Regions from separate parts of the Homo sapiens genome. Here region 1 is linked to region 2. Evidence: fine-mapped expression QTL. A gene starts in region 2. The other region holds a variant in brackets. All regions are shown on one strand. Distances are from middle to middle.

Region 1 (5,370 bases), 36 kb before region 2:
AAGTCAGGAGTGCTTTTCTCCATTCTGGTCTGCAACTGACTCCAGTGTAACCAAGTTCTTAAACACAAACTTTTTCTGAACCTTAGACCTCACCCCTCCACTCCTCATCCCTGCCCAAACTCAGCTACTGTCCAGTGTGGAGTTCACACACTGACCACAACACGGACAAGAACAGGCTCCTGACCAGATGTGAAACCAACTCAAACTCAACACTACAGAAATGTCTCTCCTCTCAACAAAGGAAAATACAAATCTTCAGTGCTCTCCCTCTGAATCCACTTTTCAGCCACCCCCTTACGAAATTTTCCTGCATCTAGTATGTGTCATTTCCTACAATAAATCCATATAGATCCAGCCCCTCAGAGCCAACAGCCCCTTCTTGCCACACATACACACCTCCCAAGGTCCAGTACCTCCTCTCCCAAAGAAAGGCAGGGCCCCTGGACATCACAAAGATGGCTGTGTTTCCTCAAACCCAATAGCCCAGTCCCATGATCCACATGCACTGATGCTCCCTCACGGGGTCCAGCCTCCTCAAATCCACATCCGGCTCCCACTAACTACTCAGGGCAACCACAACCCAAGCTCCAGTGCCCTGAGCCCCTGGGGGCTGGTCACACAGGAGGAACTCCTTCCATGCCCAGGAAAGGAAGCCTTTTGCCTAAGTCTGCTCTGGGAAGCTGGAGCACTCAAGGCCACGCACTCGGTCCTCTCCTTAGGTACTGGAACAAAAAACACATCCTTCATTTCTCTAGAGTCAGCATGTATTTATTTGGCTTCCTCTCATCCCTGTGTACTACTTTACAACTTGTCAGTTTCCACCTCTCCCCAGATGCACACAAACCCTTTGGGAGTAAGGAAGAATACACAGACAGCGGCCACTCTCCATCCACTACAACCCTCAGGGTGCCCCTTTCCTGGAAACAACACAGCTCTGTGTGGCCATGTGCTCCCGAGCAGCATCCAAGGAGTTCCGCTGGCTGACCTCAAACAAATCCTCTTCCACCTCTCGTGCCTTATTACCCTGAGTTGTGTTCATTTTCCAGAGTTGTGTTCCATTTTCCAATTACAAATTCCTAATTCCCAAGTATCCTGACTCAGCTGTGGGAAATGAAGACTCCAAGGCCTAGAAGCAGGAAAGTGCTTGGGCCCTGGAATGGAATTCAGGTTCTTATCTCTCCTTTGACCCCAGGACAGTCTGTCCCACTCAGAGGGCAGCACAGCTCTCAAGGAGGGCATGGAGGAAAAAGCCCTGGGTGGCACCAGCTTGTTAGGAGGAAAAGCAATCGTCCTGCCTGACCCCTGCTCTTATCCCACTGACACCTGCTTTCCAAGTACCTCTTACTTCTTTCCTCCAAGCCCCCAAACCAGGCGCAAGGCATAACCTTTTAGGGAGAAAGGAAATAACTGCCTGTATTCTCCACTGGAATAATATACAAGATCACACTTACCTTTGCCAAGACTGGAACAGTTGTCAGAGAGTTTTCCTCCCACCCACTCCACACCAGCAGTATTTAAATTGCTTTGAAACACCATCCGGGAGAAATTATCATCACAAATATTTAAAGCTCCCATTCATAAAAAGACAAAAGAAAGAGAACACACACATACACACACCCTACCTGTGACTCGACGAATGTTTTGGGACATGTGTTTATCCTAAGAAAGCACACCTAGACACCCCAAAACACTCTTGCAGGCTTCATCTCATTCCTTCCCCAAGAGTATTCTGACCTGTCTGCACAGGTATCCGTGAGAAATGAAAAGAACACAGTGAAAATATGACGGCTCTCTCATAGGAACTCGTGTGAAATGGATGAGGCTCAATATGCTGCCTGCCTCTTCAGCAGCACAAAAAAAGGCAGCCAAGGAATCACCGGACACAGTGAAACCTTTGGGGTGTGATTCCACGCATCTCAGAGCCTTCTGCTGAATAAAAGGACAACCCATGTGGAGTTGGAACATTTGACTTTTATCTGCTTGGCCCTAAAGTACCCAGGAGGACTGGGCCTCCCAGGCCTGGCCTACATCTTGTGAAGGTTACATACCTCAGAAGGTTAAAGCTCAGATCAAGCCTCTTTGCGAAATGTCCACAGTCCCTGCCAAGGTGCTCTGGAATTTCTCTGCAGTCCTGGCCTATGTAGGACACCTGGAAATTAAATGGAACAGAAACAATGTGGCAAATGGAAATCACCCAGCTGCTCCCAACCCTGAAATTACTGATCCAATGATTGCTTCTGCAACTTGAAACACATGTTTCTCACACACAAAAAGGCCACACTTGTGACTGTTTCCCTGATCAAATCAGCTTTGGGGGCTCCAAGGACTCCACCAACAGCTCCCCTTTCCTGGTGCAGTTAACATGATGAAGACTAATCCCAGGACAATGGAAATTGGACTAAAATTGGCCAGATTCAGGTGTCCAAAAGAAACCTGAATATCAGGGCACATTGATATAACCGCAACAATCGCCCTCTCACTCAGGGGCTTTTGCAACAGTTGCTCCTCTGCCCCTTCTTCTCCCTCTCCTCCACTGCCCTCCAGTACCCTGGTATGCACATTACCTCATAAAAGACACAGCAGATGCACTTACCAGCATCCAACCTTCAGGGTGCTGGAACAAATAGGGTTGGAAAAGAAAACCTCCCCAGACCACAAATCCCATCCAGTTGCCACTGTGTACAAAATGCCCTCCACACCCAAACAAAGCTGATTTGAAGGCAACAGGGCAACAATGTGTGTCCGGGGCTCCTGAATGTCCCTCCTCCAGAGGCCCTTTGGCAGTCAATCCCACTCTGTGCACAAAGCTGTTTCTTTGGGCATTCTTCTATTTATTACAGATTATTTATTATTAAGTACCTGTATGTGCCCAAATATTAAAAAGCTGAACTGAACTGAATCTGAACTGATTCCAGAACCTGTGAGAAGGTCAGTGGACTTTCTCACTACCCTAATCACCCAGTTTTTGGAACCCATTTTTACAGACAGCACTCTGTGGGCAGATTGGCAACTAATCCTCAAACCATAAAATAAACCCATGAGGCCGAGTTGACCAGTGGGCCACAATGCATGCTGTTTCCCTAAAATACAACATGCTCAACCCCCAGCTTGAAATTCAAGCCCAAGACAC[G/A]GCTATAACCTTCTTCTGGTTTCCCTACAAATCACATTCTTCCACACATATAGACAAAGATCTCTTAGAATGAGAGAGAGAGAGACTCCCCAGGAGGGTGTTTCCTCATGGGAAACAAGACTATGGTGGCCATCTTACATCCTCAGATATTAGGTTCAACTATGTGAACTACCAATATCCAACCATTTTAGAACCACAAAATAGCTCTTTTACATGGTGCAACCTAATACAAGCTGCACTGAACCCTGACACCCTCAACATCTCCAGTCATCTCTCAACCTTCTCCTATCCAATGAGGACAAACTGCTGACAATGCAATATCCTATATCCACTCTCCTTCAGTAACTTCATTCTAGGAGGAGAGAAAATAAGGAGAAAGGATAGAAAAATAGCTGACTCCAATAAAGTAATTTTGACTCAAGAAGATATAGGCTAAAAAATAAAGGACTCTAAGTTCAATCTAGCAATCTCTCCTCTTTCTACCTGGGGTCCATCTTTCTTCACAGTTCCTTGTGTAATAAATTAAGTTCTGCTTCCAAGCTGAGACAGAAATCATATGCCAAAGAGAGACTGTGGCTATAAGGCCCTATTCTATCTGGGGACTTCGATTTCCCTCAGGATCTCTGCTCAGTCAGCAGCTTCTTGGCCAGGCGCGGTGGCTCATGCCTGTAGTCCCAGCACTTTGGGAAGCCGAGGTGGGAGGATCATGAGGTCAGGGGATCGACACCATCCTGACTAACATGGTGAAACCCCATCTCTACTAAAAATACAAAAAATATTAGCCGGGCATGGTGGGGAGTGCCTGTAGTCCCAGCTACTCAGGAGGCTAGGGTAGGAGAATGGTGTGAACCCTGGAGGCGGAGCTTGCAGTGAGCCGAGATTGCACCACTGCACTCCAGCCTGGGCGACAGAGCCAGACTTGTCTCAAAAAAAAAAAAAAATTCAGCAGCTTCTTCTGTATTGTACGTTCACAATGAACCCCAGGTCCATGGCGCTCACCAGAAAATCCATCCCATTCACCCCAGCCTGCACTACTGTCTTGCACATATTATCAGTCAAGACCTCTGTGATATATATAGCAGAGACGTTGAGTTTTAGATGCAGAAACTGGGCTCTTTCCTCTTAGAATGGCCAAGGACTAAATCTAATAGACACCCAGTTTGTCAAAACTTCTGATGTTTTATACAAGGAAACTAAGACTCCAGAGCCCTGCCCAGCACAATACAGCTTCTTAGTGATAGAGCCCAGATCAAGTCCTATGCCATAAATAAGGACTTCCAACTTGGGGGCCATGGAGTGCTTACAAATCCATGTGTGGGTGTGAGATTTCTCTCTCTCTTTTTTTTTTTTTTTTTTAAAGAGATGGGGTTTCACTGTGTTGCTCAGGCTGATCTCAAACTCTGAACTCAAACAATCCCCTCGCCTCAGCCTCCTAAAATAGCTGGAATTGCAGATACAAGCCACCATACCAGGCAGACATGAGTTTTCTTGATCAGCAAATGCCAGTGGTGCATCTATCATCATGTTTTGGCTTCAAAATGAGTCTTCTGAGCTGAAAGGGCAAGAACTTCTCCCACGGTGCTACACTGAGGACCCAAGAAGAGTGTTAGAGCCTGGGAAAAGAGAGGGATATTTGCTTCCCTTTTTCTTCTGTAGGAATTCCATTCAAAGGAAACAGGAGCACCAAGGAGAGCTATCATAAAGCATTTGGATCACTCACAACATCTGATGAGACTGTCAGCAGCCTGTTTCAGTACATGGTCTTAACTATACAACATCCCAGGAAGACTAAGAAAAATACAAGTTGTTCTCACTGTTCTCAAATGTGAAGACCAAGTCTCAAAAGTTTAGCATGAGAACCAACTCGATAAGTAATCTGCATGCTTAGATAACTCCTGTGGTAAAGTAGAAGCTTTTAGAGATGTGAGTTAAGCCGACCAGGCTGAAGGGCTCAAATCAGCTGGAAAAGGCTTAAAAGCAGCAAGCAGCCACTGCCAGACATTGCAAGCAATGCTTGAAACTAGAAAAAAGACTTAAGAAGTGCTTCTGAGGGAAGACATTACCTCTCAGGATGTCAGGAAGCTTCTTAGAGCACAGGACCACCTAATGTAAGATTCAAGGCCAGAAGAGCCAAACCAAAAATAGTTTGCTTCTTCAGCAAAAGGGAGACGGGATACAGAGATTAATAGATCTTAAATGGCACAGAAGCAAGAGCATATCCAGAACACCATTGCATTTAG
Region 2 (5,370 bases):
AGGATAAGAGTGCTTCACAGACGCGCTGCCCCGCAGAGACAGCGTAGGACTGTCCCGCCCTCCGAAACGCGCACCTGGGACTTGCTCCCCGGAGACCAGACAACCGCCTCCCTCAGCGTGGGGCCTCGCCACCCGCTCGCCGACTCACCTCCCTCAGATGTCGCACGGACACTACAAACCCCCTTGAATGCAGGTGTGCTCTTACACGCTCACACTGACAAACACCAGCCCCAAGCACACACCGCCTCACTCCCCTCTTCTCTCCAAATGAGCTTCAGTCAAGTTACCATTTCATAAAGTTTACCAACCCAAAGAATCAAGGGATAAAATCCAAACGCAGAAAAAGAATGCCTAGGAGCAAATTCTAAAACTCACCCCGGAAAGTTCTCGGTACCCGTGCGGAGTGGGAGACAGAGAAAGAAGCCGGGGAGGGGAGTCAGGTGGGGGAGGGGAGTGAGATGGGCCAAGAGGAGAGGGCGAGCATACCAAGGGCAGTTCCAGACCCGACCCCCGCGCGCACCCGGCTCAGCCCCAGGTGCGCGCCGGTCGAAACCGGGTCTCCAGGCTCGGCCCCCGCCCCCCACGCGGGCACAGACTGGCTCCCGACTCCCAGAGCTCCCAGCCCCACCATTTATCAAAAGGACTTGACAACAAAAGAAGAGCCGGGGCGGAAAAGCGGAGGAGGGGAGATTCAAAGTCTTCTAAGTCGTTCCGAGGAAGGGGGTGTGTCCTCCTCCCCACCCCCTCTAATTTCTGCGAGTTCCTGGAGGAGACCCTCGAACCCGCTCCGGACGCTATCAGAGCCCCGATAACTCACGCAGCGCCACAGGCATGCATACACACTGGGCATCCAGGTCCAGGTACCCGGTGGCACGCACAGCGCCTCCCCTTTTCTTCCCAAACAACCCGAGTGACGGTGCAAATCGAGGGGAACGCGGCAGTCCCGCTCCGCTTCCCTGGAAGAACCCGCGTTCCCACAGGCAGCCGCCCCCTCCCTCTCTCGCTCCTTCCCTCGGCTCTCCTAGCGCAGCTCATTCCGACTCGGCGTTCCAATAAATTCGAGAGAGCAGCCCCGAGTTACCCTGGCTCCCCAGCCTGCGGGGATGGCGGCAGGTGGGAGAAGGTCGGGGAGGGGGCATGAGTGAGCCTGAGATGTTTCTTCCCCCATACACCCATGGCCAGGCCTCTTCTTCGCAGCCTCTTAGCCCTGCTTACGACCCGAGGGGGTCAAAGAATTGAGGCGAGGTTTGCCCCACCATTGACCTCCAGGACTAGAAGTTCCTTGGTGGTGTGGCTCTTAGAAGTCTCCGAGTTTGGGGTTAGGGAACTACAGAGGGTGGCAGCCTGACCTCCGCACGCAACACGCCCCGCGAGGACTCGCGGCGGCGGGGTGGGGTGGCGGGAAATCTCCCGTGTTAGAAGTTGCCGCCGCTGGTCTCGGGTACCCGGAGCCGCGCCCGAACTCCGCGACCCCAACAGACCGAGGCTCCCAGAGGTGGAAGGGCGTCTCTCCGACACCGAGAGGGCAGGCGCACACTCCAGGCCTGCGCGCCCCTCTCGGCGCCCTGGGCGCACCTGCGCACTTTACTCTCGCTATTCATTTTCCTGACACCGTGCGCCTCTTTCATTCTTTTTCTTAGAGCCCCCACCCCACCCCCATCCCAGGAGGCCGCTCCTCTTTTCCCCTCCTCCAGTTCCCTCTCAATCTCCTCCTTCCTCTCCGTCTCTCTCTCCCTCTCTCTTTTTCCCTTCAAGTCGCACCCGCCTTGTAATCAGCAACAAAAGCTGACATAAATCACGGGAGGATTGACAAGAGCTGACAAATAACTGATTGATTGCGGTCGAGGAACATTGACAATTGATGGAGGGGTGGAGATGCCCAAAGAAGGGGGGGAGGGAGGAAAACAGGGTGGGAGAGTAAGAATGGGGGGTTGGGGGACAGACTGAGGGTGAAACAGAGGAAACATGTGACCCCCGCTGCTGCCCCAATCTACGCGTCCCCGGGCGTCACGTGGCCGGGAAGGGCGGAGAGCCCAGCGCTCCTCGCGGTGTTGAGCCGCCGCCGCTGCGACTGCCCATCTAGCTTCTGGTTTCTCCGCCGCGGAATCTGAGGAAATTAGAGCGGGCGGGCGGGCTTCTTCCAGCTCCGGCTCCCCACCTTGCCTTCTTACCCTGGTGGCTGCGCTGCGCCGCGCGGGATCTCGATTACTGCGAAGGAAAAAACACTGGGTGTGCAGGTTCCCTTCGCCCCTGGAGTTGACAGTCCGGCCGGTGTCCACACTCCCACCGGTGCTCCTTCTGGACACCCCCCGCAGTCTGTTCCTCACGCGCACCCCCCTTCAAAAGAAGGTTTCAGTTTATTTTCGAGCTGGGGAAAGGAAGAACGACGAGGAGGAAAAAAGAGGGAGGCGGCGGATGGCAAACGTAGAATAAATGTCCATCTCGTCCTCCCAGCGAAATCGAGGGAGGGGACACACAGGGGGGCGGCGAAGAGGGAGCTGCCCATTAAAACCGGCACTGAGAGTCCTGGCAGCGGCGGCGGCGGCGGCGCGGGACGCGTCACATCCCCTTGACCCTCCAATCACCTCGGGCTCCCATTTGATTGGAAGGCGGCAAAGGCTTTAATCTCCCCCTTGGTGCAGCTGCTTTTGAAGTGAGTTTCCTCGCCAGAGCCCCGGCTGGACACGCAGCGGCTCGCATCGCAGAGCGCAGCGCCGGCGCGGGGCCGCGAGAACGCAGCGCAGGGGAGCAGCCCGAGGCGGACACCGCGAGCCGCCCGGCACTCCCGCAGTCCAGCCGGCTCCTCTAGCCCGGCCACGGCTCCGCTGCGGGCCACCCAGGATTACTCGCGTCTGGCTCCAGGCGCCGAGAAGGCGCGCTGGGCGCCCGTGGCCGCCGCGCCAGCTCCTCCTCCTCCCGCTGCTCCTGCTCCCGGGGCGAGCGCGCAGCCCCGAGCCCGCCCCGCGCCTCCCGGAGCCCTCCCCCCCGCTGCTCCCATGCGCGCGGGTGGGTCATGAGCACAGCGCCCTCGCTTTCTGCCCTAAGAAGCAGTAAGCACAGCGGCGGCGGCGGCGGCGGAGGCGGAGGCGGCGGTGCAGACCCTGCCTGGACCAGCGCGCTCTCTGGAAATAGCTCCGGCCCCGGCCCAGGCTCGTCCCCGGCCGGCAGCACCAAGCCTTTTGTGCACGCCGTGCCCCCCTCTGACCCCCTGCGCCAGGCCAACCGCCTGCCAATCAAGGTGCTGAAGATGCTGACGGCACGAACTGGCCACATTTTGCACCCCGAGTACCTGCAGCCCCTGCCTTCCACGCCGGTCAGCCCCATCGAGGTAAGGACCCTCTCTCTGGATCGCACTGGGACCACTACCCTGGCTGCCACCCTAGGGCTTTCTTTTTCTCGGGATCTGGGCGGAGGTGGGGGGGTCGGAGTGATTCAGCTCCCGAATGGGGGAAGAGGCTACTGCTTCCGTACCTCAAAACTAGGGCGGAAAAGGGGGAGGAAGTGGAATGGGGCGTGCATGCTAGGGAGCAAGGCTGCCAATACTTGTTTCTCCTTTCGATATGAAAGCCCCTACCCCGACCCAGGCCCCTTCACTCGGCACCGAAGGCAGGCGGAGGTCTGAAATACGGTTCCAAAGTCGCCGTCCTTCGTATCCGCAGAAGCCAGTGTGTGCACACAGCCTCTGAGGCGCCAGCCGCCCGAGCCCTTACTCTGAAGAATTAAGGAGTGTTTGTGGGGAGGGGGTACAGTTCTGGGTCTAGGAACCGAAAACCAAAACATTTTGCTCTTTAAAAATCTAGTTAGCGCTCAGAGAGGGCAGGAAAGATGCTGCTGGGGGTGGTGGTTGGGCGGGGGGAGCAATCTGCTGCCTTTCCCAACGGCGAGAATGTTTGTGAGTGGGTGTTGAAGAGGGGGTGCCGCCTAGAATTGCGCCTTGGGGCTGGGAGGATCTTCGTGGGCTGTTGCGGAGAGGCATTTGAACCCCAGAAGCCAGGATTCTAAAGGGTTTCCACTTCTTTCTCTGTGTGACGCTCCCCCCCCATCGTCTGACCCCGCAGCTCGATGCCAAGAAGAGCCCGCTGGCGCTGTTGGCGCAAACATGTTCGCAGATCGGGAAGCCCGACCCCTCGCCCTCCTCCAAACTCTCCTCGGTTGCCTCCAACGGGGGCGGCGCGGGCGGTGCCGGCGGCGGTGCTGCGGGCGACAAGGACACCAAATCGGGCCCCCTGAAGCTGAGCGACATCGGCGTGGAGGACAAGTCGAGTTTCAAGCCGTACTCCAAACCCGGCTCGGATAAGAAGGAGCCGGGAGGCGGCGGTGGAGGCGGTGGCGGTGGCGGGGGCGGCGGCGGGGGTGTTTCGTCGGAGAAGTCGGGATTCCGGGTACCGAGCGCCACCTGCCAGCCATTCACGCCCAGGACAGGCAGCCCGAGCTCCAGCGCCTCGGCCTGCTCGCCGGGAGGTATGCTGTCCTCGGCCGGGGGTGCCCCGGAGGGCAAGGACGACAAGAAAGACACCGACGTGGGCGGCGGTGGCAAGGGCACCGGGGGCGCCTCGGCCGAAGGGGGACCCACGGGGCTGGCACACGGCCGGATTAGCTGCGGCGGCGGGATTAATGTGGATGTGAACCAGCATCCGGATGGGGGCCCGGGAGGCAAGGCTCTGGGCTCGGACTGCGGCGGTTCATCGGGCTCCAGCTCCGGCTCCGGCCCCAGCGCGCCCACCTCCTCCTCAGTGTTGGGCTCTGGGCTGGTGGCTCCCGTGTCACCCTACAAGCCGGGCCAGACAGTGTTCCCTCTGCCTCCCGCGGGTATGACCTACCCAGGCAGCCTGGCCGGGGCCTACGCCGGCTACCCGCCCCAGTTCCTGCCACACGGCGTGGCACTTGACCCCACCAAGCCGGGCAGCCTGGTGGGGGCGCAGCTGGCGGCGGCCGCGGCCGGGTCTCTGGGCTGCAGTAAGCCGGCCGGCTCCAGCCCTTTGGCCGGAGCGTCTCCGCCGTCCGTGATGACAGCCAGTTTGTGCCGGGACCCTTACTGCCTCAGCTACCACTGCGCTAGCCACCTGGCAGGGGCGGCGGCCGCCAGCGCTTCTTGCGCACATGATCCGGCTGCTGCGGCTGCGGCGCTGAAGTCCGGATACCCGCTGGTGTACCCCACGCACCCGCTGCACGGTGTGCACTCCTCGCTAACGGCCGCCGCGGCTGCTGGCGCCACACCGCCCTCCCTGGCCGGCCACCCCCTCTACCCCTACGGCTTTATGCTCCCTAACGACCCACTCCCCCACATCTGCAACTGGGTGTCGGCCAACGGGCCGTGCGACAAGCGCTTCGCCACGTCCGAAGAGCTGCTGAGCCACTTGCGGACCCATA

Evidence for each region. PIP is the estimated chance that this variant, and not a neighbour inherited with it, causes the effect.
Region 1: its variant is fine-mapped to the expression of ZNF503-AS2 in whole blood (TOPMed, PIP above 0.99).

The regions. Positions count from the first base shown.
Region 1 is chr10:75,435,173-75,440,542 of GRCh38, reverse strand. LRMDA (leucine rich melanocyte differentiation associated) reads right to left here. Exons shown (of 7, transcript NM_001305581.2): 2 at 2,049-2,149. Among named protein-coding and RNA genes, the nearest start is that of LRMDA, 6.2 kb to the right of the region's middle. The variant G/A (reference allele first, on the strand shown) is at 3,131.
Region 2 is chr10:75,399,063-75,404,432 of GRCh38, reverse strand. It overlaps ZNF503-AS2 (ZNF503 antisense RNA 2), which reads right to left and starts at 2,905. Exons shown (of 2, transcript NR_024421.1): 1 at 2,172-2,905. It overlaps ZNF503 (zinc finger protein 503), which reads left to right and starts at 2,669. Exons shown (of 2, transcript NM_032772.6): 1 at 2,669-3,328; 2 at 4,059-5,370. The coding sequence starts at 3,014. RefSeq lists an enhancer at 3,167-3,667.